Linked DNA regions of Homo sapiens: regions 1 and 3 are each linked to region 2. Evidence: fine-mapped expression QTL. A gene starts in region 2. Each other region holds a variant in brackets. All regions are shown on one strand. Distances are from middle to middle.

Region 1 (8,222 bases), 20 kb before region 2:
CACAGAGCCAGCCTTGGCCTCGGTGCTGCCCTCAGTCAGCTCGTGGTCCGGGAAGGGATCATACACACTGCCACAGTCACAGCCTCACACTTACACATGGACACACCCACACATGCTCCCACACGCATGTGCACACACACACACGCACACACACACACCATAGGATGCTTCTGTTTTATTTGACACCAAACTAACACATCTTGGAAACTTCTTATGGAAACACCAACAGTAAACATGGAAAGTGGAAATAAAACACACACCCGAGATGATTCCTAATTAGCGGAAACAGCCCTAGTCTAGATCCAGAGACCCTGGAGGGACACGAACGTGGTGCAGGTCAAATTCCCCGTTGTCCAGCGAGGGTCATGGGCTGCCCAAGGCCACACAGCTCACTGCCCTGTGCCATGTCCAATCCCCTTGCAGCCTCCCTCAGCTCATGCTCAAGTCACACAGGCCTCCCCAGGCCTGCCCTGTCAATGCTGACCCACAAACAGGCTCACATAATGCTCCCTCCCAGGGGCACAGCAGCCTTGGCTTTGATCTGAGGTGGGGCTTTCCTGGCCTGAAAGTTGATGTGGCCAGCCTTCAACCTGTCCCCCATATCACCGTCTGCTTTTGGAGACCCAGGGCAGGAAGCTGAAGCCTTATGTGGGAAAATGAGGGCTGGTCCCACGGCAGCCCTGGGGACCAGCTCTCTCCTTCGCTTTATGTATTATTTCATTTTTAATTACAGAACCAAGGTAGCAGAGCCTCTCAGGCTGAGCCAGAAAATAATCAGCTTTTTAATTTGATTTTTGTTCTCCCAAAGGAGAACAAGGGGCTCCAGGGGCACCATGAGGCCTGGACCTTGGAGATATGGTTAGATCCTCTAACCTATAGATGCTTGACTCCAGGCTGGCTCACCATCTACAGTGGGGTGACCTCCGCAGGCCCCAGTTTCTCTCTCTTTAAAATGAGCGGTTGGACCAAAGCTTCCTCTCAGGTCCCTTCCAGCACCAAGCCTCTCTGATCTCTGAGCAGTCCTCACCCCACATGCGTGGCTTTGCAAATTTTCCGACCTCTCTTCCATTTCTGAGCTTTCATCTTTTTCTGTAACGGCATAAAAATATCCTCCTTACCTCCCTGTCCCTGATTCTAGCGCCAGTCTGTGGCTGTCCAGGGGTGGGGTGGGGAGGGTCTCTTCCTGCCTCTCTCAGTTCTTTTCTGTCCCCTCTGGCTTTCCCCTTCTCTCCCCAAACCTCTAGCCACTAGTTATTTCCCAGAGTTTTTCCTCTGTGCTCCCCTCAGTATCATCTCTGCTCTTGTACCTCTGTAGCTGTGCCTGGCCATCTACTCTCCCTGCTCTCTTACCTCCTGCCAAAGACCCCACATCTGACCTTCTGCAGAGTCCTGGATGTGGCCCCTGGACTTCCCATCAGTTCTTCAGACTGTCCCTGTCCAATCTTCTTTCCACTCCCCACTCCCGCACCTGCCTGTCCTCCCTTCCCTGCCTCAATGAATGGTGCCCCCTCCACCCTGCCTGATCTATGCCATGGGTCCAGGCAAGTGCAAGGTCTGGCCCTGGGACCAGAAGGATGGGCCTTGACTCAGGGCGAGGAAGGACCCTCTTCCTAGCTTCCCCCAAATAGCTTGATCCACCTCCCTTCTCAGTTACACTGTGCAGCTTTCTTGCTCTGAAAGGTTGGAGACATTTACTGTTTTTGAAATTGTAGGATCTCTGTTCCTCAGACCCAAGGTGCAGAATGTCTTGGTTATGAGTCGGTGACAAAGCCCTGCCAAATCCAGGTCTCCAGACTCCACCCCAGGGGTCTCCCTGGTCTGACACTGCAAGCTGTGCTCCTCCCCAACCTCCCAACATCTGGACTCGCTGGGAGCTCCCTGGAGCTGGAAGCATGGGCTGGTTTCAGCAAGGACCTGCTGTCACTGGGCTGAGGAGGACAGGCCACTGGTGCTGCCCCCTCACAGGAAGGTCCATGAACAATGCACTAGGTGCCTTCCTGTCAGAAGATGCTCTGGGAATTCCTGGGTGGCCAGAGCCCTCCACCCTGGGTCTAGGGAAACCAACCCTTAAAAGCTAGCCAGGCGCGGTGGCTCACGCCTGTAATCCTAGCACTTTACAGGGCTGAGGCGGGTGGATCACTTGAGGCCAGGAGTTCAAGACCAGCTTGGCCAACATGGTGAAACCCCGTCTCTACTAAAAATACAAAAATTAGCTGGGCATGGTGGTGGGCGCTTGTAGTCCCAGGTACTCGGGAGGCTGAGGCAGGAGAATCCCTTGAACACAGGAGGCGGATGTTGCAGTGAGCCCAGATTGCACCACTGCACTCCAGCCTGGGCAACAGAGCAAGACTCCATCTCTAAATAAATGAATGAATAAATAAATAAATAAATAAATAATAGCTTATTTCCAGAGAAGGAGATGGAGTGGAGCCCACTTCTTATTAAGACACAGCCGGCAGATGCTGGTCAGCCCAAGAGGGGAGAACTAACTGGTGTTCTGTGTGGACTCTGAATCCTGTTCCTTGCCAGAGCTGAGCCTTGGATGGCACAGAAACTTCCCAGTCCACACCAAGGATTGCTGACTGAGAAACAATCCGGCCTGCAGGCATGGGCCTGGGGCTCAGAGGGCTCTGGACAGCTGACTTCTGGTTGGGAAACTGATTACCCTTCTCAGTCCTGGGAGACCTTCCTTGGCAGAGGCCTGGCAGCATTTAGCACCAATGGGGGTTAATCCAGAGAGAAGTCCCAAGCACCCCTTTTCTCTCTCCTAGTGATTTAGAGCTGAAAGGAATCATCTCGTCTATCTACCTCATTTTACAAAAGAATTGAAATCCAGAGTTCACCAAGCTTGCACAGTGAGAATGCCCATCTTTTAATTCATTCGACAAATATTGATGAAGTGTCTACCATGATACCTCATTGTGCTGGTCATTGTTCTAGGCACAGGGACATAGCAGGAAACAGGTTAGACAAATTTTCTGAGCTCCTGGAAGCAACGCTCCAGCGGGGAGGCAGTCAATAGATGGTTAAAGAAGTGGAGAAGAAAATCTTAGATAGTACTAAGTACTATGAGGAAGATAAACCAGAATGATAAAGAGAGATAGTAATTGGTAGAGGCAGGAAGGAACATGTAGATATGTATGCATGGATAAGAGAGGCCTTTCTGAGGAGGTGACATCCGATCCTGAATGATAAGAACAAGTTAACACGCAAAGATCTGGGCACAGACCCTTGCAAGTAGAGAGAACAGCTTGTGCAAAGGCCCTGAGGTGCAACTGGCATGTCACGTTTGGGGAGAGTAAAGAGGCCTGTGTGCATTGTTCTCAGGGAGCAAGTGAGGAGAGGAGGAGAGGTAGGACCTGAGGTGGAGCAGGCAAACCTGGCCCAGGTCAGCTGGGCTTTAAGGACATGGGAAGAAATTTGAATTTTATCCAACGTGTAATAAGAAGTCACTGGAGGTTTGTTTTTTTTCTCTAGTAGACTTTATTTTTTAGAGCAGTTTTAGGTTCACAGCAAAATTGAGAGGAAAGCACAAAAAATTCCTATATACTCTCTCCCCCTA[T/C]ATGTATAAACTCCCCCACTATCAATGTCCCCACCAGCCTGGTACAGTTGTTAAATTTGATAAACCTACACAGACACATCATTTTGTTTGTTTTTTTGTTTGTTTGTTTTTTGAGACAGAGTCTTGCTCTGTCACCAGGCTGGAGTGCAGTGGCACAGCCTCGGCTCACTGCAACCTCTGTGCCCTTCAGGGTTCAAGGGATTCTCCTGCCTCAGCCTCCCGAGTAGTTGAGATTACAGGTGCCCACCACCACACCCAGCTAATTTTTGTATTTTTAGTAGAGATGGGGTTTCACTGTGTTGGCCAGGCTGGTCTCAAACTCCTGACCTCAGGTGATCCACTCGCCTTGGCCTCCCAAAGTGCTGGGATTACAGGCATGAGCCACCACGCCCGGCCACAGACACATGATTATAACCCAGAGTTCAGAGTTTACATTAGGGTTGGCTCTTGGCGCACATTTGATGGTTTGAACAAATGTATAAACGCATGTGTCTACCAGTACAGTAACACACAGAGTAGTTTCACTGCCCTAAAAATTCTCTGTGCTCTGCCGGTTCATCCCTTCCTCCTCTCTAGCCCCTGGAAACCACACATTTTTTTACTGTCTCCATAGCTTTGTCTTTTCCAGAATATCATATAGTTGCAATCATATATATATGGCCTTTCCAGATTGACTTCTTTCACTTAGTAGTATGCATTTAAGATTCCTTCATGTCTTTTCATGGCTTGACAGCTCATTTTTTTTTTAGCATTGAATAATATTTCATTGTTTGGATGTACCACAGTTTATTTACCCATTCACCCAATGAAGGACATCTTCCAAGTTTTGGCAATTATGAATAAAGCTACCATCAACATCTGCGTGCAGGTTCTTGTGAGGACATAAGTTTCCAGCTCATATGGTACTTGGTAAGTACCAAGGAGCGTGATTGCTGGATCATTTGATAAAAGTATGGTTAGTTTTGTAAGAAACTGCCAAACTATCTTCCAAAGGGACTGCCATTTTGCATACCCACCAGCAACGAGTGAGAGTTTCTGTTACTCTGCCTGTTACTTCATCAGTGTTTGATGTTGTCCATGTTTTGGATTTTGGCCATTCTAATAGTTGTGTAGTGATAGTTCATTGTTGTTCCCCACTGACATATTCCTTAATGACAAATGATGGTTAGCATCTTTCTTTTTTTTTTTTTTTTGAGACTGAGTCTCGCTCTGTCACCCAGGCTGGGAGTGCAGTGGCGCCATCTCAGCTCACTGCTGCTAGCTCCCACTCCTGGGTTCACGCCATTCTCCTGCCTCAGCCTCCCGAGTAGCTGGGATTACAGGCGCCCGCCACCATATCCGGCTAATTTTTTTGTATTTTTAGTAGAGACGGGGTTTCACCGTGTTAGCCAGGATGGTCTCAATCTCCTGACCTCGTGATCCGCCCGCCTTGGCCTCCCGAAGTGCTGGGATTACAGGCTTGAGCCACCACGCCCGGCCAATGGTTAGCATCTTTTTTTGGTTTTGTTTTTTGTTTTGTTTTATTTTTTTGAGACAGAGTTTCGCTCTTGTCACCCAGGCTGGAGTTCAATGGCGTGATCTCGGCTCACTACAGCCTCCGCCTCCTGGGTTCAAGCCATTCTCCTGCCTCAGCCTCCCAAGTAGCTGGGATTACAGGCGCCTACCACCACACCTGGCTAATTTTTTGTATTTGTAGTAGAGATGGGGTTTTGGCATGTTGGCCGGGCTGCTCTCGAACTCCTGGCCTCAGGTGATCCACCCACCTCGGCCTACCAAAGTGCTGGGATTACAGGCATGAGCCACCGTGCCTGGCCAGTTAGCATCTTTTTATATGCTTTCTTGCCATCTGTATATCTTCTTTGATGAGGTATCTGTCCAGGTCTTTTGCCCATTTCTTAATTGGGTGGTTAGTTTTCTTATTGTTGAGCTTTACAAGTTCTTCAGGCCAGGCACAGTGACTCACACCCGTAATCCCAGTACTTTTGGAGGCCAAAGCAGGAGGATCACCTGAGACAGGAGTTCAACATGGGCCTGAACCCCATCTACAAAAAATACAAAAATTAGCTGGGCACAATGGTGCACCCCTGTAATCCCAGCACTTTGGGAGGCTGAGGTAGGAGGATCACTTGAGCTCAGGTGGTTGAGGCTGCAGTGAGCCATGATTGTGCCACTGCACTCCAGCCTGGGCAACAGAGTAAGACCCTGTAAGACCCTGCTTCAAAAATTCAAAAAACAAACAAACAAAAAAACACAGAAAAAAAGAGTTATTTGTATATTTTGAATAACAGTTCTTTATCAGATATGTCTTTTCCAAATATTTTCTCCCTGACTGCGGCTTTTCTCATTCTCTTGACAGTGTCTATTTCTTTTTCTTCTTGAAAGGTATAACTGAGGGAATGACAGTGTCTTTTGCAAAGCAGAGGTTCATTTTAATGAAGTCCAACTTTATATCAATTATTCCTTTCATGGGTCAAAAAATGTCATTGCCAAACTCAAGATGATCTATGTTTTCTACTATGTTCTCTTTTTGGAGTTTTATAGTTTTGTGTTTTACATGCAGGTGTATGATCCATTTTGAGTTAATTTTTGGAGAGCTTTGATTAATGGAATATGTTTTCTGATTAAAGTTTGTCACAGACCACTGTTGACTCCGAGGATGGAGAATGCGAGCAGGTGGAGGCAGTTGCAGTTGCCCTGGCAGGTGATGGAGGGTCACGAATGGATATAAAATGTGTTTTCGAAGTGAGACCAAGACACCTGCTGGGGACTGACTCTGAGGGATGTGGGATAGGAAGTATTCAAGAATGAGCCCTGGCCAGGTGCAGTGGCTCATGCCTGTAATCCCAGCACTTTGGGAGGCCAAGGCCGGTGGATCACCTGAGGTCAGGAGTTCGAGACCAGCCTGACCAACATGGTGAAACCCCACCTCTACTAAAAATACAAAAATTAGCCAGGAGTGGTGGCATGCGCCTATCATCCCAGCTACTTGGGAGGCTGAGGCAGGAGAATCGCTTGAACCTGGGAGGTGGAGGTTGCAGTGAGCCGATATCTCGCCATTGCACTCCAGCCTGGGCAACAGAGCAAGACTCTGTCTCAAATAATAATAATAATAATAATAATAATATAATAATAATAATAATAACAACAACAACAACAACAATAAGCCCCAGGGCTGGGTGCAGTGGCTCATGCCTGTAATCCCAACAGTTTGGGAGGCCGAGGTGGGTAGATTGCCTGAAGTGAGGAGTTCGGGACCAGCCAGACCAACATGGTGAAACCCCACCTCTACAAAAATATAAAATTAGCCAGGTGTGGTGGCACACGCCTGTAATCCCAGCTACTTGAGAGGCTAAGGCAGGAGGATTTCTTGAACTCCGGAGATGGAGGTTGCAGTGAGCTGAGATCATGCCATTGCACTCCAGCCTGGGCAACAAGAGCAAAACTCTGTCTCAAAAACCAAACAAAACAAAAACAAAAAACAACAGAATGAGCCCCAGGTCTGGAGACCTGGCTGGGTGTACTGAGATGGGAACAGGTGGCAGTGGAAGGGCATTCGGGTAGATGATTCTGGTGCCCATTGGAGAGGCCAGGCTGGCAGTGGGAGCCCAGGAGGCAGCTGTGAATGACTGGCATGTGAAGTGGCACTTGGTATAGAGGAGAAAAGAGAAGCAGGCTCTTTTCTTGACCTCTGGCTGTTTGTAACACGCAGTTCACACCCTGGGACCCTTCTGGCCAGGGGTTGGAGAGAGGGTAAGACACTATTAATTCACAGGACTGATTGGGTGTGGGCCAGGGCAAGGGAGATCAGTAGGGGCAGACTGAAGGCAAAGCCCCCAGACCTATTATCCCTCTGCAAACAGAGACCTCTTTCCTGAATGTGGATTTCCAATGGGTTCAAGAGTTTTGCTGGGGAAATAAAATAATTGGGCAATCAGCCAGAAGAAAGCGAATGTGGATTGGGAGACTGTTTACAATGGGCTGTTGCATCCTCAGGAGGGAGGGCAGCCCCATCCTTTGTCATGCAGAGGAAGGAGCCTGGCTTCCTAGGCCTGTGGGTGGGTGGGGGTGGGGGATCTGGCTGGTCTGCAGGGTCAGATAGGGCCCAAAAGGCCAGGAATTGTGAAGTCATCCTGAAGCCACATCTGCCATCCTGGAGGGCAGCAGGGGGCAGGAAATGGGAGAACGAGAGGAAGCTCACCACCCCCACTGAGGGCCCAGCCCTGGGACTGAACTTGAGGACATGATGCAGGGAGGAGGAGGAGGACCAGGTAGGAGGGCAGATGAGGAATGGGACCCTGTGCCCTCAGCCACCCTCCTGCCCCTGATAGGCCAGGATGTGACTCCAACCAGAGGCCAGGTTGCCAGGTGAGGGCCATGGGAAAACACAGAGGTCAGAGGTCATCGTGGGGCCTCCATGGGTGGGGATGAGCTGGACTCAGGCCTAGGCTCTGAGGTCAGCAAAGCTAAGAGTCCAGGAGTGGAGTGGCTTCTAATTCGGAGCCCAGCATCTGGGGTCTCCAGGGTGGCTTTTGTCCCCTCCCTGGGCAGGGGCAGACACTACTGAGAGTGCTCAGGAAATACCCCAAGGCCAGTCCAGGTGTCTTGGGCTGCCCCAACCCACACCATCAACCTCCCTGACCCCAGGCCTGAGGGCCCATGT
Region 2 (8,222 bases):
GGATCATAAATCTCCATCCCAGACGCCCTCTGACCTCAGCCCTCCCAGCTGACCGCTGACCCTGCTCTCTTTGCCCACACAGAGCTCAGGGCGACTGTGACCCTGAAGCACCAATGACCGAGGGCACCCGCTGCTGCCGCCAGGAGATGTACATTGACCTGCAGGGGATGAAGTGGGCCGAGAACTGGGTGCTGGAGCCCCCGGGCTTCCTGGCTTATGAGTGTGTGGGCACCTGCCGGCAGCCCCCGGAGGCCCTGGCCTTCAAGTGGCCGTTTCTGGGGCCTCGACAGTGCATCGCCTCGGAGACTGACTCGCTGCCCATGATCGTCAGCATCAAGGAGGGAGGCAGGACCAGGCCCCAGGTGGTCAGCCTGCCCAACATGAGGGTGCAGAAGTGCAGCTGTGCCTCGGATGGTGCGCTCGTGCCAAGGAGGCTCCAGCCATAGGCGCCTAGTGTAGCCATCGAGGGACTTGACTTGTGTGTGTTTCTGAAGTGTTCGAGGGTACCAGGAGAGCTGGCGATGACTGAACTGCTGATGGACAAATGCTCTGTGCTCTCTAGTGAGCCCTGAATTTGCTTCCTCTGACAAGTTACCTCACCTAATTTTTGCTTCTCAGGAATGAGAATCTTTGGCCACTGGAGAGCCCTTGCTCAGTTTTCTCTATTCTTATTATTCACTGCACTATATTCTAAGCACTTACATGTGGAGATACTGTAACCTGAGGGCAGAAAGCCCAATGTGTCATTGTTTACTTGTCCTGTCACTGGATCTGGGCTAAAGTCCTCCACCACCACTCTGGACCTAAGACCTGGGGTTAAGTGTGGGTTGTGCATCCCCAATCCAGATAATAAAGACTTTGTAAAACATGAATAAAACACATTTTATTCTATAATTTTGTAATTTTCTATTTTATTTTAATTAATTAATTATTTTTGAGACAGAGTCTCACTCTGTCACCCAGGCGGGAGTGCAGTGGCCCAATCTCGGCTCACTGCAGCCTCTGCCTTCCAGGTTCAAGCGATTCTCATGCCTCAGCATCTTGAGTAACTGGGATTACAGGCATGTACCACCACGCCAAGCTAATTTTTTGTATTTTTATTATTATTATTATTGAGACAGCTCTGTCGCCCAGGCTGGAGTACAGATGGCGCTATGTTGGCTCACTGCAAGCTCTGCCTCCCGGGTTCACACCATTCTCCTGCCTCAGCCTCCCGAGTAGCTGGGACTACAGGTGCCTGCCACCATGCCTGGCTAATTTTTTGTATTTTTTAGTAGAGACAGGGTTTCACTGTGTTAACCAGGATGGTCTCAACCTCCTGACCTCGTGATCCGCCTGCCTCGGCCTCCCAAAGTGCTGGGATTACAGGCGTGAGCCACTGCACCTGGCCTAATTTTTTGTATTTTTAGTAGAGATGGGGTTTTGCCATGTTGCCCAGGCTGGTCTGGAACTCCTGACCTCAAGTCATTCGGCAGCCTCAGTCTCCCAAAGGGCTGGGATTACAGGCACAAGCCACTGTGCCCGGCTGTAATTTTCCATTTTAATCAAAGCTCTGCAAATTGAGGAAGGAGCAGAAAGTTCTACAGCGATTAGGTCAACCTGATTGTAAAACTAAGGAAGGAGCTTGAGTTGGCCAAGACTTGGTAAAGATCTTGGTTAGGTAATACATGAAACTAGGATTAAAATGCTTTCAGGGCCAGCACGATGGCTCACTTCTGTAATCCCAGCACTTTGGGAGGCCGAGGTGGGCGGATCACTTGAGGCCAGGAGTTCAAGACCAGCCTGGCCAACATGGTGAGAGTGCATTTCTACTAAAAATACAAAAATTAGCTGGGCATGGTGGTGTGCGCCTATAATTCCAGCCACTCGGGAGGCTGAGGCATGAGAATCGCTTAAACCCAAGAGGCGGAGGTTGCAGTAAGCTGAGATCACACTACTGCACTCCAGCCTGGGCAATAGAGTGAGATTCTGTCTCAAAAATAAAATAAATAAAAATAAAATGCATTCTGATTCTAGAATCTATGGTACCTGCCCTCCCAGAATTGATACAGAAATTTCTTTTTTTTTTTTTTTGAGACGGAGTCGCCCAGGCTGGAGTACAGTGGCAGGAGTGCAGTGGCGCGATCTCCGCTTACTGCAAGCTCCGCCTCATGGGTTCACGCCATTCTCCTGCCTTAGCCTCCCGAGTAGCTGGGACTACAGGTGCCCGCCACCACGCCCGGCTAATTTTTTTGTATTTTTAGTAGAGATGGGGTTTCACCATGTTAGCCAGGATGGTCTCTATCTCCTGACCTTGTGATCCGCCCACCTCGGCCTCCCAAAGTGCTGGGATTACAGGCATGAGCCACCGCGCCCGGCCAATACTGAAATTTTTTTGTTCTTGACACTTTGACTTTCCTGGGCATAGTGACTGGGCTTTATTCCAATCCTACTTGCATCAAAATAAAATCTGTGATCAAAATTATCATCTATACTTAGAGAAGAAAATAAAGCTTCAGAGGATCTGGAATTTATAGCTGTAAGAGCTGTGCAGCTGGGCGCGGTGGCTCACGTCTATAATCCTGAGGATCACCTGAGGTTGGGAGTTTGAGACCAGCCTGACCAACATAGAGAAACCCCGTCTCTACTAAAAGTACAAAATTAGCCGGGTGTGGTGGCACATGCCTATAATCCCAGCTACTTGGGAGGCTGAGGCAGGAGAATCGCTTGAAGCCAGGAGGTGGAGGTTGCAGTGAGCTGAGATCACACCACTGTACTACAGCCTGGGCGACAGAGTGAGACTGTGTCTCAATAAGTAAATAATTAATTAAAAATTAAAAAATAAAATAGTGATTTTACAAGCACTTCACACAACTGACATAACAAAGGCTGTGGCTATCTCAACTCACATATCGATCCATCAAGGCCTTCTCTTGATTTTGAAATAACCTTAACCTACTCAAGAACAAATTTAGAAATCCTTTCTCTCTCTGAAATCTTTGTCAGTGGCTCCAGCATTCTAATTACCAAGACCGGAACCTTGCACTTGCCTGGACCCATGGCACAGACCAGACAGGTGGGGGCACCATTCATTGAGGAAGGAAGGAGGACAGGCAGGTGCGGGAGTGGGGAGTGGAAGAAAGATTGGACAGGGACAGTCTAAGGAGCCAACGGGGAGTCCAGGGGCCACACCCAGGACTCTGCAGACCGTCAGATGTGGAGGTAAGAGAGCAGGGAGGGGGGATGGCCAGGCGCAGCTATGGAGGGACAAGGGCAGAGATGATACTGGCGGGGGGCATAGAGGAAAAACCCTGGAAAATAACTAGTGGCTAGAGCTTTGGGGAGAGAAGGGGAAAGACAGATGGGACAGAAAAGAACTGAGAGAGGCAGGAAGAGACCCTCCCCACCCCACTCCTGGACAGCCACAGACTGGCGCTAGAATCAGGGACAGGGAGGTAAGGAGGAATTTTTTTTTTTTTTTTTTTTTTTTTGAGACAGAGTTTCGCTCTTGTTGCCCAGGCTGGAGTTCAATGGTGAAATCTCAGCTCACCGCAACCTCCGCCTCCCAGGTTCAAGCGATTCTCCTGCCTCAGACTCCCTAGTAGCTGGGATTACAGGCATGTGCCACCACACCCGGCTAATTTTGTATTTTTAGTAGAGACGGGGTTTCTCCATGCGGGTCAGGCTGGTCTCGAACTCCAGACCTAAGGTGATCCGCCCACCTCGGCCTCCCAAAGTGCTGGTATTACAGGCATGAGCCACCGCGCCCGGCCATAAGGAGGATATTTTTATGCCGTTACAGAAAAAGATGAAAGCTCAGAAATGGAAGGGAGGTCGGAGAACCTGCAAAGGCATGCATGTGGGGTGAGGACTGCTCAGAGCTCAGAGAGGGGTGCTGGAAGGGACCTGAGAGGAAGCTTTGGTCCAACCACTCATTTCACAGATAGGGAAACAGGGGCCTGCGGACGGGTTGGTTTGCTCCTTGATTCCCAGGGCGCGCGGTCCTCCCCGAACCCAGCCTCGCTTCCCGCGCAGCGCCCAGCAGTCCCTGGCGCGGCGGGCCGGCCCTGCCCTCGCGAGCTTGCGGTCCGGTTGTGGAGGCCACCGGCTCCCTGGAAACATTTGGCTCCCGGCCGGGAGGCATGCCGCGCTCTCGGACCTGGGCTGGAGTAGGTGCCCTTGGCGGCCCTGGCTCGAGCAGTAATGGACTAGCCCCAGGGGGCGTTGGAAATGCTGCGACCCGCCCCCACATTTTTGCCCGAACGGAGACCCTCCGGGCTTTCACGGTCCGGCCTTCTACAGCGGCGGGGGAGCCGTGGCCTCTTGCAGGGCGCTCCGCGCGGTTCCCGACTACCCGGAGCCGAGGTGCGGGCTGAATCCTGCTGAGCTCCCCATGCTACCACCCCCGCAACCCCACTCTCCCGGGGCGGGTCTAAGAGCTCTTCGGGGAAATTCAAAGCACTACAGGGACCAACGTTTGCAGATGCTCTCCCTGCGCCGCGACCACCCTGTGCTTGGCCCAGTTCTCCCGGAGGCGTCCAGAGACTGGGCTCGTGCCGGGGGACGGAAGAGGGTGCGCCCCGGCGGATCCCTTCTTGGAGCCTGGACGTGAGCTGGCCGGTCCGGGGCTTGCAGACCTCCGGGAGGAGCTGCGGGGCTGAGCGGCGACCAGGAGGCCAGGCCGGGGCAGAGGACCGCCGAGGGCCACCGCGGGAGGCGCAGTCAGCTGCGTACAGGCTTGCGCCGCCGCGGGCCAAGACTCCAAATTGGGAAAGGGGTGGCCGCAGCTCTGCGCATGTGCAGGAGGCGCCGGAGTTTCACTTTGTAACTTTTAAGTGGTCGGAACACGCCCCGCGCTGCTGGGTCCCGCCAGACACGCCGCCGCCGCAGGTACAGGGGACAGGGGGCGTGAGGAGGGGCAATGCACCCTCCGCCTTTCCCGGGACGTGCGCGCCAGGTGTCCGGTTCCGGAACGGCTCCCAGCCTACGCAGACCCCAGAGCCCCCGACCCCAAGCAGGGGGTGACGACGCGGGATTGGGTGGGAGGAGAGGGTCCGGGCAGCGCCTCCATTCCAGCCCTGCGCTCCTTGGGAATTCCTGGCGGCTTTTCAGGACTTTCCTCTCCGGCTTTTCGCTTTCAGGGCTGGTATCTCCTTCTTCCCCACCCCTCTCTTTGGGATTTGTCGGCGGAGTCCGACCTCCCACCTAACTAGGAGTGCAGCTATGGGCTCCTCGGACCCTATACGAGGCCGGGCTGGGAAAGGGCCAAGCGTCCGACTCTCCTGACGCCAGGAAGGCAGAGGCCACCCCTCGGGCTGTTCCTGGGTGACCACTTCCTGCAGCCTTGGCGGAGTCCTGAGGAGGGAGGCTGGGGACTCGGGGACTGGGGGGAAGGGCGGGGGCGGAAAGGGTGAGGCGAGCTCTGCTAAGAAACCAAATCCGCAAAGGTTCCAGCACCTGATAAGACTAGCTACCTGAGGCCCTGGAGGGGCCTTGGTCATTCAGCCCCAGGCAGGTGGTGTCCTCTTCAAGGGCAGGGGTGGACAGCGTGGCGGACCCACTGACCCTCCCTTGACACCTCTCAGGTCATCCTCAAGTCTGCTGTGCCTTCAAGGGGGATATGAACGGAAGCCGAGGCTCCTTTTCCCTTCACACGCCCCTCTCCTTTGTTTAGTGTGGGGGCAAAGGTCTCTCCTAGCTGTTCGTTGGGCTCTAACAGAGAAGACGTCAGGTGGGATCCTGCCCTTGTGTTTCCCATTAGCTGGAGGGGCGACTTAAAATAAAGGCAGACAGCTTCTAATTGCTTGCTAGGGCCGGGTCCTGGGCTAAGTGCTTTACAGGTGTTGTTTGGGATCTGTGCCTCCCAACAGCTCCGTGAGAGAAAGTCATCACTCGCATTTCCTGGCGAAGGAAGCCAAGGCACAGAGTGGTTAGGCTGCTTGTCTGAACTGCGTGGTGCTGAGACCCTAACTCCAGAGCCTGCTCACATAATCCCTGAGCCACACTGCCTCTGGTTTCAGCCAGGGGCTGTGTCATTTCCTTTGTGCTCCAGGGTAGGAGGTAAACAGTTGTCCAGGTTACTGGGTCCTGTTTGGTGTTGCCATAAGGAGAAGTTTGTACTTTACTTTGCAACCTTATTCTGCATCTGAAAGACCAGAGTTAGCTCCTGAGGCAGAAGGCCTGGAGCTGCTTGTAGTTTCGCTATTGTCATCACAGGATTGAAAGATTTGGTGATGATAAAATTACCCTGAATTTGTACGGGCCTTCTTGCAAGAACGAACAATATCCATATACTTCCTGCAACATTCTGCTGGTATTTCTAGAGCTTGTCAAGTTGACCACCAGGCCAGTCCTTGCTGCCAATGGAGACTGGCAGTGGATTAGCATAGGTAGTTTACTTTGGCAAATTTAGACCAGCTGTTGGATTTAGCCCTCTCCCACTGGCCACAATCAGACGCTTGCCTGCACATGGGTTGAACTTTGGGTTGGGAGCGTGAAGTCACCTGCTGCCCACTCTGGCTCTTGGGCCTCAGCAGTAATTCTTGGCTTTCCTACCCTCGGCATATTGAGTAGGAATAAGGGGATGAATGGAGAATTTCTGGAAGGCACAGGTAAGTGCTAGGCATTCACATACATCTAGGATGACTGAATATTGCCAGGGGTTCTCAGCCAGGCAGTGCCACTTCAACCACAGTGCCTAGCTGCTGGTTTGGCCTCCTCTATACAGCTGCCAGCTGGGTGCTCCCCTCCCCCTGCCTTCTCCTCAGCCTGGCAGCACTGTCCCATGGTGTCTGTGTTCCCAGCTGCCTGCTCAGAGCGTGCCTGTTTGTGAAAATGCAGAGGAGCTGTCCCATGGAGAGCCAGAGGGACGGAGCTGTTTCAGGGGGATCTGGACTTTATGTGTCTAATGGGCAGGGACAGGCTGGGACTGAGCTGAAAGGTCTGAGAGAGATTGTGGGTCCCCAGAGCTCTACCCTAACCTGGGTGCTCATCGGAGAGGGCAGACAGGACTGGCCACCTGACCTTACCTCCGTCTCAGGCTGATAGTATTTGCTAGCCACCTCCCTGAGTTCATATCAAACTTTGTCAAACCACCCTGGGAAGCCTATTTGGCAAGAGACAAGTAACTTAGAGGCATGACTGGGGCTGGAGGGAGGGGGAAGAGGAGCCGCAGGTGTTTCCCTCCGCAGAGGCCTCTCTCCTCTGCAGCACTGGCGAGGGTATGCCACTCCCAGCACCACCACAGCACCCTCCCCTTTCCAGGGACAATGCTCTCTCTGTGAGCATTTTATGGGGATGTTTTTTCTTTCCACTTCACATTTCAAGCCTTCCTTGTTCATGCTGCTGTGTTCCCTTTTCCTGATTCTAGCTCTTGGGGAACCCTGGGGAGCCTCCCCAGTAGCATTGGCCCTTGGGGCCCAGGTGAAGTCCTTTGCTTGGGGCCCTACCGTGAGCCCACAACCTCCAGGGTTTCTGTGGGAGAGGGCTGCTCCCCTAGACCCAGCAGGTCCCTGAGCCATTGGCAAAGAGGAGAGAGGCTGGGGCCACAGGTGGTGCTGGCCGAGGAAGGAGGAGTAGGGTCGCACAGAGGAGCACTGATGGATGGAGAACCAGTTCTGGGAGTTTGGGGAGAGATCAAGGCAGGAGGGAGCCCACTGGGCAGAACCTAAAGGTCCATATGGGCAGCATGCATACACAGGTGTGTGCTGGAGGGTTTCCATCCAGACCCCTACACTGGAAAAGGGTGGCTCCCATGTGATGCTTGGTGTCTGTGATCCTTCAGGAAAGTCTACAGTTTGGTACCCCAGGACTCGCTGGTCAGGAAAGCCCTGCAGGACATGAGTGTTAGGCCCGACGCCTGGCCCTTGGCAGCTTGGGAGGTGGCTGGGGCTGCTTTTGCCTTTGCCAGAGACAGCTCCAACTGAGGACCTCTCCAACGGGCCCATCCACAGTCCTTCCTTCCCCTAGTGTCTGGTAAGTGTGGGGACAGGAAGGAGGAGGGGTAGGTGGTGGCCTTGAAGTGTTGGGCTGGTGTGTTCCATTGGGTGGTGCCACTGGGGGATTTTAAAGGGAAGCCAAGAACATCTGTGTTCCAGAGGTCACTCTTGTGACACTCTGTTCAGAGTCAGCAGCCCCATGACTCTGGCATCACAACCCCCACTACCTCCAGCCATTGCCAAGTCTCTTAGAAGGTTGAGAAAGTCACTTGGCTGTCTGTGGGATGCTCCCATGTTCTTGGGCTT
Region 3 (8,222 bases), 42 kb after region 2:
ATCCTGGAAGTGAAAGAGCCGACGGAGGGGTGAGGCTGTGGCCCTGCGCCCCTCCGTCCTGCACAGCAGGGGGTTAAAGCGCCTGGGGGTGAGATCAGCTGGCCCACCCACAAGGAGCCATAAAGAAAAGGACAAATCCAGGGTCTCAACCGCTCTCCCCTCACTGAGGGCCTTCTCTTTTCTGGGAGGGCCACCCAGGCAGGGGCATGGGACAGCCTCTAAATCCCCACCTTTGAGGGTTTCCATGTGAGACTTGGAAATCCCAGAACCATCAGTGCCACTCCAGACCAGCATCCTAGACTGGGGAGCGGTACTGAGGGCCGCCCGGGAGCCAGGCACCTGGTCCCTCCATGAGGGCTTTCTCCAAACACCTCGACCTTTAGTGTTCCCATCCAAGGGCCCCTGGGGCACCTGCAGGCAAGGCTATACTTATCCCACCACCAAGTGCCCTTCGTGGAGCCCAAGACTGGCCGTCCCCCTGCCTCCAGCCTCAGAGGCCCCTGTTCTCGGCTCAGCCAGGCTCACCGCTCATGCTTCTGGGTCATCCAGCCCTGTCCCAGGTTCTCCTTGTAGAAGCGCTGGGAGGAGATGATGGTGCCTGTTGTCCAGTAGAGCATGACGTTGGTCAGCAGGTCGTCCAGGGAGAACTTCCTGGGAACGCAGAACACAAAGCCCCACTCTCAGTGCCACATGCAGTTGTGTGACAAAGGGCAGCCAGAAAGTCCTACAAATGCCAGGCCCTGCCCATGCGGCTTCCCTCCTCAGACCTCATGCAACGTGTGTGGTATCCTCGTGTCACAGGCAGGCTGCGCCCAGGGCACTAGACTGGAGCGCATGGATTTAGTTGAAGTGTCTCTTATCACCCCAAGGTCCTCCCCCCACCCACCTTGCCTCTACACACCTGTCCCCTCTCTCCTGCCACTGACCTCTCCTCCCTCCCCTCAACCCCTGCACCGTGAAACTGCTCAGGGCACCAGCTACTGTGGTGACCACATACCAGGCAGCATGTTCTAAGCTCCTTACCTTCTTTTAATTCATGTTTTCCTCTCAACAGCCTATGGGACATAGGTACTATTATCTCCATTTTACTTATTAAGTGGAGAATCCAAACCTAGCCAGCTTGGGTCCAGGATGCATACTCCACAGCCCCCACCCCACCTTCCACTTTCCCCAGAGCACGCCCTCCCAACCCTACCTTCCTCACTCAAACCCTGAATCTCTAGCAACAGCAGCAGGGAGCAGGGACAGAGATAAAGGGAACAGCCTTTTCAATGTGATTTTGGTGGCAAAATGAAAACTGGTCAATGAAAACTAGTTCCAGTATACACATCACCTCTGTGAACTGGATTTCTGCAAGTTGGCCAAGTGCTTCCATCTCCCTTTCAGCTCTGCCCGCAGCTTGAAAACGACCACGACCACCATTTCCACCCTAGTGTATTCCTGTTCTTTCTAGAACACAGATCTGATCCTGTCTACCTCCTGCTCAGGGATTTGGTGCTCCCTGTAACCCGGGGCCAGAGCTGCAGGAGTGGCCTAGTGGGATAGTCTGGTGGGGCCTCACATCTTGCTCCAGGTATCCGTGTGCAAGGAGCAGGCCAGACCCCCTGCCAAGGTGGTCTTGCAGAAGCTCCATCAACCCCTGTGTCCTGCTGAATGTAGGGCAGGGGAAACAGATCCCAGACGAAGGCCCTGCTGAGGCTCTTGGAGGAGGTGAGGACCTGCCTGCAGGAATGAGTTTGCTTTTGATCTGGCCCCAGTGTACCTGCTTCAGCCTCTGGACAAGCCACCCTTTCCAAGCACCCTTTCCTTGCATTTTTATTGCTTTTCTCTTTGCCTAAGTTTCTCTCCTCCATCCAGCAAACTCCTACTTATCCTCCAAGGCCCAAATCAGATACATTCTCCTGGTCATTTCCCCTCTCTGCCGCTTAGACAAAGAATCCTCCTTCCACTGGACTCTCACAGTCCTTTGCGCATTCATTCAACATCTATGTACTGGGCTCTCCCACTGTTCACCCGGCATTGTTCTAGGTGATGGGGCTACAGCATGGCCAAGACAGAGTCCCTACCCCCAAGGCAGGATTCAGTCTCATTTTACTGTCTTTCCCATCCCCAGCACTGTCTGGTCCTGTGTGTCACTGAAGGAATAAAGGGATGGGCCCTGGAAAGGGTGGGTCAGAGCTGACCTTGGTGAAGCCTGAGTCAGGCCACAGAGCTGGGAGTCAGGCATGTAGAGGATACAGCCTCTAAGGCTCTGAGAGATTAACAGCCTCCTGTCTTTCTGCGACCACCCTCCTGGAACACGCAGTCACGTGACCCTGATGCCAGGCTCTCCAGGGAATCAGGAGGAAAAGCCCAGGTGCTCTTGACAATAATGTGGTGCCTGCTGCCCTGTGGGCTCCCTAATCCCCAGAGGGGCCTGTTCAGCAAAAGGAGCACAAGCAGGTGAGCCTGCATCCTAGTCTTGACCATGCACTGTGAGGCTGGGAACAACCCACCAGGCCACCTCACCCAAAAAATGCAGCTACGTTGGTCACAGGGTGAGGATTTGTAAGAAAGCCAACAATAGAATTTGCTGAGTGCCCCATGCAGAGCAACCAGACAAGGGGATGAAGAGGGTGAGGAGGTTGGCTGCTGGGACCAGGGTCATGACTGCAGGGGCAAACCAGGGCCTCACCTTTCCAGGCCTCCATCCTCCAGGTATCGGAATTCCGTATTGGTCCAGGTGGAAAACTTCTCTAGAATATAGGCAGCCAGACCCACAGGAGAGTCATTCAGAGCAGAGCCTGGCGGGGAGCGGGGAGCAAGGGAGAGACTCAGGCCTGGGGACCAGAGAGCTGGAGCTTCAGGTGTGATGTGTGGCACTGGCCGCAGAGGGCGGGGCTGTGTGCAGGAAGCCACGTTCGAGCACAGGCCTGCCTTAACTCCTGGGTGCTCACATGCCTCGCTTCCTTAACTCTGCCTCGGCATCCTCATCTGATAAACAGGGACGATACCTTCCCACTGTCTCCCAGGGCCTGGCACACTGCCTGCTCAGCTTCCTTCAAACTGAAGGGCCTACGCCTCTGCATTTGGTGGGGTCCCAATGAGAAGTGCTGTTTTTAAAAAGGCGGGGTTTTTCAGTCTATGTGCTCTGATTCATGAAAAATGAGAAGCCACCTAAAAAAGTCTAAAATAGGGGATCAGTTACAAATATTGATATACTCATAAGCCAAAATACTGTACAGTCATTAAAAATGGCTGGAACAGGCTGGGGGCATTGGCTCATGCCTGTAATCCCAGCACTTTGGGAGGG[T/C]GAGAAAGGTGGATCACCTGCGGTAAGGAGTTCGAGACTATCCTGGCTGACATGGTGAAACCCCATCTCTATTAAAAATACAAAAAAATTAGCAGGGCATGGTGGTGCATGCCTGTAATCCCAGCTACTTGGGAGGCTGAGGCAGGCAAATTGCTTGAACCCGGGAGGTGGAGGTTGCAGTGAGCCGAGATCGTACCACTGCACTCTAGCCTGGGCAACAGAGCAAGACTCTGTCTCAAAAAAAAAAAAAAAAAAGGCTGGGACAGTGGGACAGGCTGGGTGCGGTGGCTCACACCTGTAATCCCAGCACTTTGGGAGGCCGAGGCGGGTGGATCACCTGAGGTCAGGAGTTCGAGACCAGCCTGGCCAACATGGTAAAACCCCGTCTCTACTAAAAATACAAAACATTAGCCAGGCATGGTGGCAGGTGCCTGTAATCCCAGCTACTTGGGAGGCTGAGGCAGGAGAATTGCTTGAACCTGGGAGGCGGAGGTTGCAGTGAGCTGAGATCACACCACTGCACTCTACCCTGGGCAACAGAGCCAGACTGGGTCTTGAGAAAAAATAAATAAATAAAGCTGGGACAATGGCATAAATGAATCTCACAAACATAATATTGAGCAAAAGAAGCCAGACTCAAGGGTATATACTCTGTGATTCTATTCATAGGACTTAAACAGGCACAATCAAAACCATCTCAGTCAGAAGTCAGAGCGTGGTACCTGGGAGAGAACCCCGAGGGGCATCTGGAGTGTTGGGGCCATGTTGGTGATATGGACGTACTTCACTTGTGAAAATTCTCACCAAAATGTTCACAAGTTCTTTTGAAGGAGAGGGGATGTGGGGAGGGAGAAGAGGTTATATGAGATTGTCTTTAATGTTTTGTACTTTTTGCATTTTTAAGCTTTTTGACAACATGTATTTTATAATCAGAGAAAAATGCTGACTTTTATAAAGTGCCATTATTATGATTATGAGCTGCCTCGTGTGTGTGGGCATGGGTTTGCCATGAAAACTATGAAGAACTTTGAGATGGGCAAGACAATTCCTGGGTGTCTTCTGGACAAGATCTAGGGAGTTACCTAGCAGACCTTCCGGACTGACGTGATGCTACAGGGGTCCCATCTTTCCTTGTCATTGAGCTATTTTACAGTTCTGTGAATTGTAAAGAACTGAGGGTAATGCGAATGACTCTTGTTCATAGAGGCAAATGAATTTTGTCCCATGGAGATTTAATTGATATTACTCTGTGGATGTTGACAAGTTTTGTGTCTGTTAGCAAATTAATTTCAGTGTTCTTATTTGTCTTTGAATTGTTTCTTTTTAAAATTTTACTGGTTCCTTTATAAATTTACCTTTTTGAAAAAGTATTGTCCTTTAACAGGACCCTGGTGGCAGACATGGTTGCTGGGCCCTCCCTCACTGCCTGGGAACCTCTTCCCCAAGGCCCCAGGGCACCCTCTCCCCTCTCCCCTGCAGCCCCAGAGCTGCCCACTCCCAGGATTCCTCCTACCTCACCCCCTCCATCCCTCTGCTTCTCAGTGTAGGATATAGACTCAGGGGTGGGAGATCAGGGGTGAAAGCCACTATGAATACTGAGTCGGCTAAACAGAGTTGCTAAATTGGCCTGGGAATCTGCTGAGGGTCCATCCTCTTGATTCTATGGGAAAATGCAGTTTAAAGATCTAAAGAGCTGGGAGGTCCTTACAAGAGGCTTCCTTCTGTGGGCAGCATTGGGGTGGGGTGGTGAGGTTACCCCGCGGGTGTCTCCCTGCCCCAGTGGAGCCGGCAGTGGGCGAGGACCCCTGAGCACACTCACCTACGGTGTCAGGCTTGGTGCACTGGATGTGCATGTAGCCGCTCTCCCTCATCAGGCTGTAGAATACCTTCTCCTTGACGGGGTACAGCAGCTCCACATCCCTCTCAGTGAGGCCAAGAAACCTCCCGAAACGCTGTCCCAGGAGGAGGGTCAGGGTAGAGAAGTTGCTTAAAACCAAAGCCATGTTCAAGTGCAGGCCTTTCACGTGGCTGAAGGCAGAGAGAGGGGCCGGGGTGAGGCTGGGCTGGTGTCAAGGACAGGGAGAGAGGAGAGATGGCGGAGGAACAGGCCTCAGGGCTGAGGAGCGAGCACAGAGCCAGCCTCTTTCAGCACTGGCCCCACTGGGGAGGCCATGGGAGTTGGAGAAGGGAGGTTGGGGGAAAAATACAGTTTCTGGGGAGTTCTGCTCAGGGCTATCCCAGAGCTTGGTCCAGCAGAGAGGTCTAATGCCTGACCTTCCCCTCCTATCACAGGCCTTCTCTGCCTGGGAACCTGACCCAGAGCCGCAACCCTGGGTTACAGACAGGAGGATCCAAGTCAACGTGCCTCAGGCACTGCTGAGTGACAGGTCACACTCCCTCCTCTCCCCTGGGGGGTCCTTGGCCCACCCTGCACACAGGTCCACTTCTTAGAGGACACACACACACACACACACACACACACACACACACCACCCCAACAGTGACCTCACCTGGGCACCAGCTGGGCCATATTAGTGCAGATCAGGGACCCCCAGTCCCCTCCTTGAATGTAGAATTCCTGGAAGCCCAGCCGCAGCATCAGCTTGTAAAAGATCCTGGCGGTGGCCACCGAGTTGAACCCTGGCAGTGATGGGGAAAGGCATGGAGTCACGGAGTCACAGGCAGATTGCTCCTTGGGCCCTCTGGTGTTCTATGAAATTTCTCAGGCCCGCCTACCCCCAGGTGGAGGTCAGAAAAGCTCACAGAGGCAAGAAGGAATCCTGGAGCCCAAATATAGGGGTGGCATCTCCAGCCCCGGAGGGCGGTGTGTCTGGGGCCGGCCTCTCAGGCCCCTCCTTTCCCAGCTTCCTCGGGCCAACTCCCTGCTCACCCCGCCGGAAGGAGAGCCTGGTGGGAACACCGGGCCCACCCTTGGCGAGGACGGGGCAGTTATGGAACCTCTAGCAGCCCCGTACCCTTCTTGGAGGATGCCTCTGAGAAGCCATAGCCAGGGATGGAAGGGCAGATGACTTCAAAAACGTGCTCATCGCTCAGGCCATGGTTCTTGGGGTCAGTCAGGAGTGGGATGATCTTATAAAACTCGTAGAAAGAGCCGGGCCAGCCGTGCACCATCAGCAAGGGCTTCGGGGTATGGCCTGCGGGCAGCTGGGGGGGCTTCACGTGGATGAAGTGGATGTCCAGCCCTGGGGGGACAGAGCACAGTCAGGGTGGAGGGAGAGAGAAGACCCTGCACGGTCAGGCTCTGGCACCCCCCAGAGCCTAGATATTGAGTCCTGCCACCCTTAGTGCCCCCGCCGCCCCTTCATGGTATTGACAGTAATAAGGGCTGACACTGGTTTCACACTCACACTGTGCTCCAGGTGCACAGATGTCCTCACTCAGCCTTCACAACCTCCCTGCAAGGGAGCTACGATTATTGCCTCCCGGTTTCCTTAGAGGTGCCCCCTGACAGCTGGGCCAGGTCTGTACAGCCACTGCTGGGTTTCCAGGGCTCAGGACAGCTCCTGGCTCACAGCAGGCCTCCATAAATACTTGTTCAATAATTTAAAATCTGGAGGGTAGGGAGAAAGCCCCACGTATCCAGCAATACAGGATTAATCAAGTATAGTTTGACAGTATACTGGAGTCCAGTACAGTCATCTAAACTGACAAGGTAGATGTATATTTATTTAACATAGAAAACTGATCAGAAGATATTGCTGGGAGGTAAAAGCAAATGATCAAGTCATATCCATTGTGTGACCCAGTTTTTATAAAAAGTCATCTATGCTTATACTGTACTTATACTATGTATTGGTGAATTTTAAAAGTCTGGGAGGATAAACTCCAAGAATGTAAAAAGCAGTTCTCCTGAGCAGTAGATTCCAGTGCTTTTAATTTCTCTTTGAGTTTTATGTACTTTCCAATTTTTCTACAATGAACAGGTATTAAATGCATAATTTTTTTCATACACATTGACAAAATGTCACCTTTTTCTGATTACCAAATGATATTTTCTTTAAAGTGGAGTATTTTTGGGCCTGGTGTGGTGGCTCACGCCTGTAATCCCAGCACTTTGGAAGGCTGAGGCGGGTGGATCACCTAAGGTCAGGAGCTCAAGACCAGCCTGGCCAACATGGTGAAACCCCGTCTCTACTAAAAATACAAAAAAATTACCCGGGCATGCTGACAGGCGCCTGCAATTCCAGCTACTCGGGAGGCTGAGGCAAGAGAATCGCTTGAACCTGGGAAGCAGAGGTTGCACTGAGCCGAGATCACACCACCACACTCCAGCCTGGGCAACAGAGCAAGACTCCATCTCAAAAAATTAAAATAAAATAAAGTGGAAGATTTTTTTTTAAGTGCAATGCTGAAAACATCATCATAGCCAAGGGCAGGTGAATGGATTCTTGTCTCCTCTGGACTGACTTGGGGCCTCTGCATATCAAAAGAAGGCAGCCCCTTCCCAGGCCAGTGCCCTGGACAGCACCTGGGGCCTTACGGCATTCACAGTGAGGGCGGCTGCCATGCTTGGAACTCTCTGCCACCAGGGCTGGTGCAGTCAGCATGGTCTAGCTAATGTTCTGTTCTGTCGTTAATATATTATACAAATAATACATGTTTACTGTAGAAAACTTAGAAAACACAGATAAGCCAAAGGGGGAAGACTCACATGTAATCCCACTCTCTAAAGAAAACATGGTGTTGTCTGTCTAAACTTTATTTTGGAACAGTTTTAGATTGCTGAAAAACTGCAAAGAATCCAGAAAACTCCCATATACCTCACACCCACCGGGTTTCCTCCATTATTAATATTTTATGTTAGCATGGTACATTTATTACAATTAACGAACCAGACTGAGATATTATTAACTATAAAGTCCATTGATTTCCTTAGTGTTTACACTTTTTATTATATGGCGAGAACACT

The links. PIP is the estimated chance that this variant, and not a neighbour inherited with it, causes the effect.
Region 1: its variant is fine-mapped to the expression of TMEM63A in thyroid (GTEx, PIP 0.99).
Region 3: its variant is fine-mapped to the expression of TMEM63A in CD4 T cells (Kasela 2017, PIP 0.91).

Annotation. Positions count from the first base shown.
Region 1 is chr1:225,898,847-225,907,068 of GRCh38, reverse strand. No RefSeq gene overlaps it. Among named protein-coding and RNA genes, the nearest start is that of LEFTY1, 14 kb to the right of the region's middle. RefSeq lists enhancers at 1-633, 6,224-6,986, 6,987-7,749. The variant T/C (reference allele first, on the strand shown) is at 3,563.
Region 2 is chr1:225,878,951-225,887,172 of GRCh38, reverse strand. TMEM63A (transmembrane protein 63A) reads left to right here and starts at 4,793. Exons shown (of 25, transcript NM_014698.3): 1 at 4,793-4,869; 2 at 7,763-7,953. LEFTY1 (left-right determination factor 1) reads left to right here. Exons shown (of 4, transcript NM_020997.4): 4 at 83-891. The coding sequence ends at 446. RefSeq lists enhancers at 1-28, 3,875-3,924, 3,985-4,034, 6,237-7,187 and silencers at 4,545-4,704, 5,265-5,384.
Region 3 is chr1:225,836,927-225,845,148 of GRCh38, reverse strand. It overlaps EPHX1 (epoxide hydrolase 1), which reads right to left. Exons shown (of 9, transcript NM_001136018.4): 4 at 6,268-6,495; 5 at 5,803-5,932; 6 at 5,112-5,320; 7 at 2,675-2,783; 8 at 526-651; 9 at 1-3. It also overlaps a transcript of TMEM63A not described here. Among named protein-coding and RNA genes, the nearest start is that of EPHX1, 31 kb to the right of the region's middle. The variant T/C (reference allele first, on the strand shown) is at 3,293.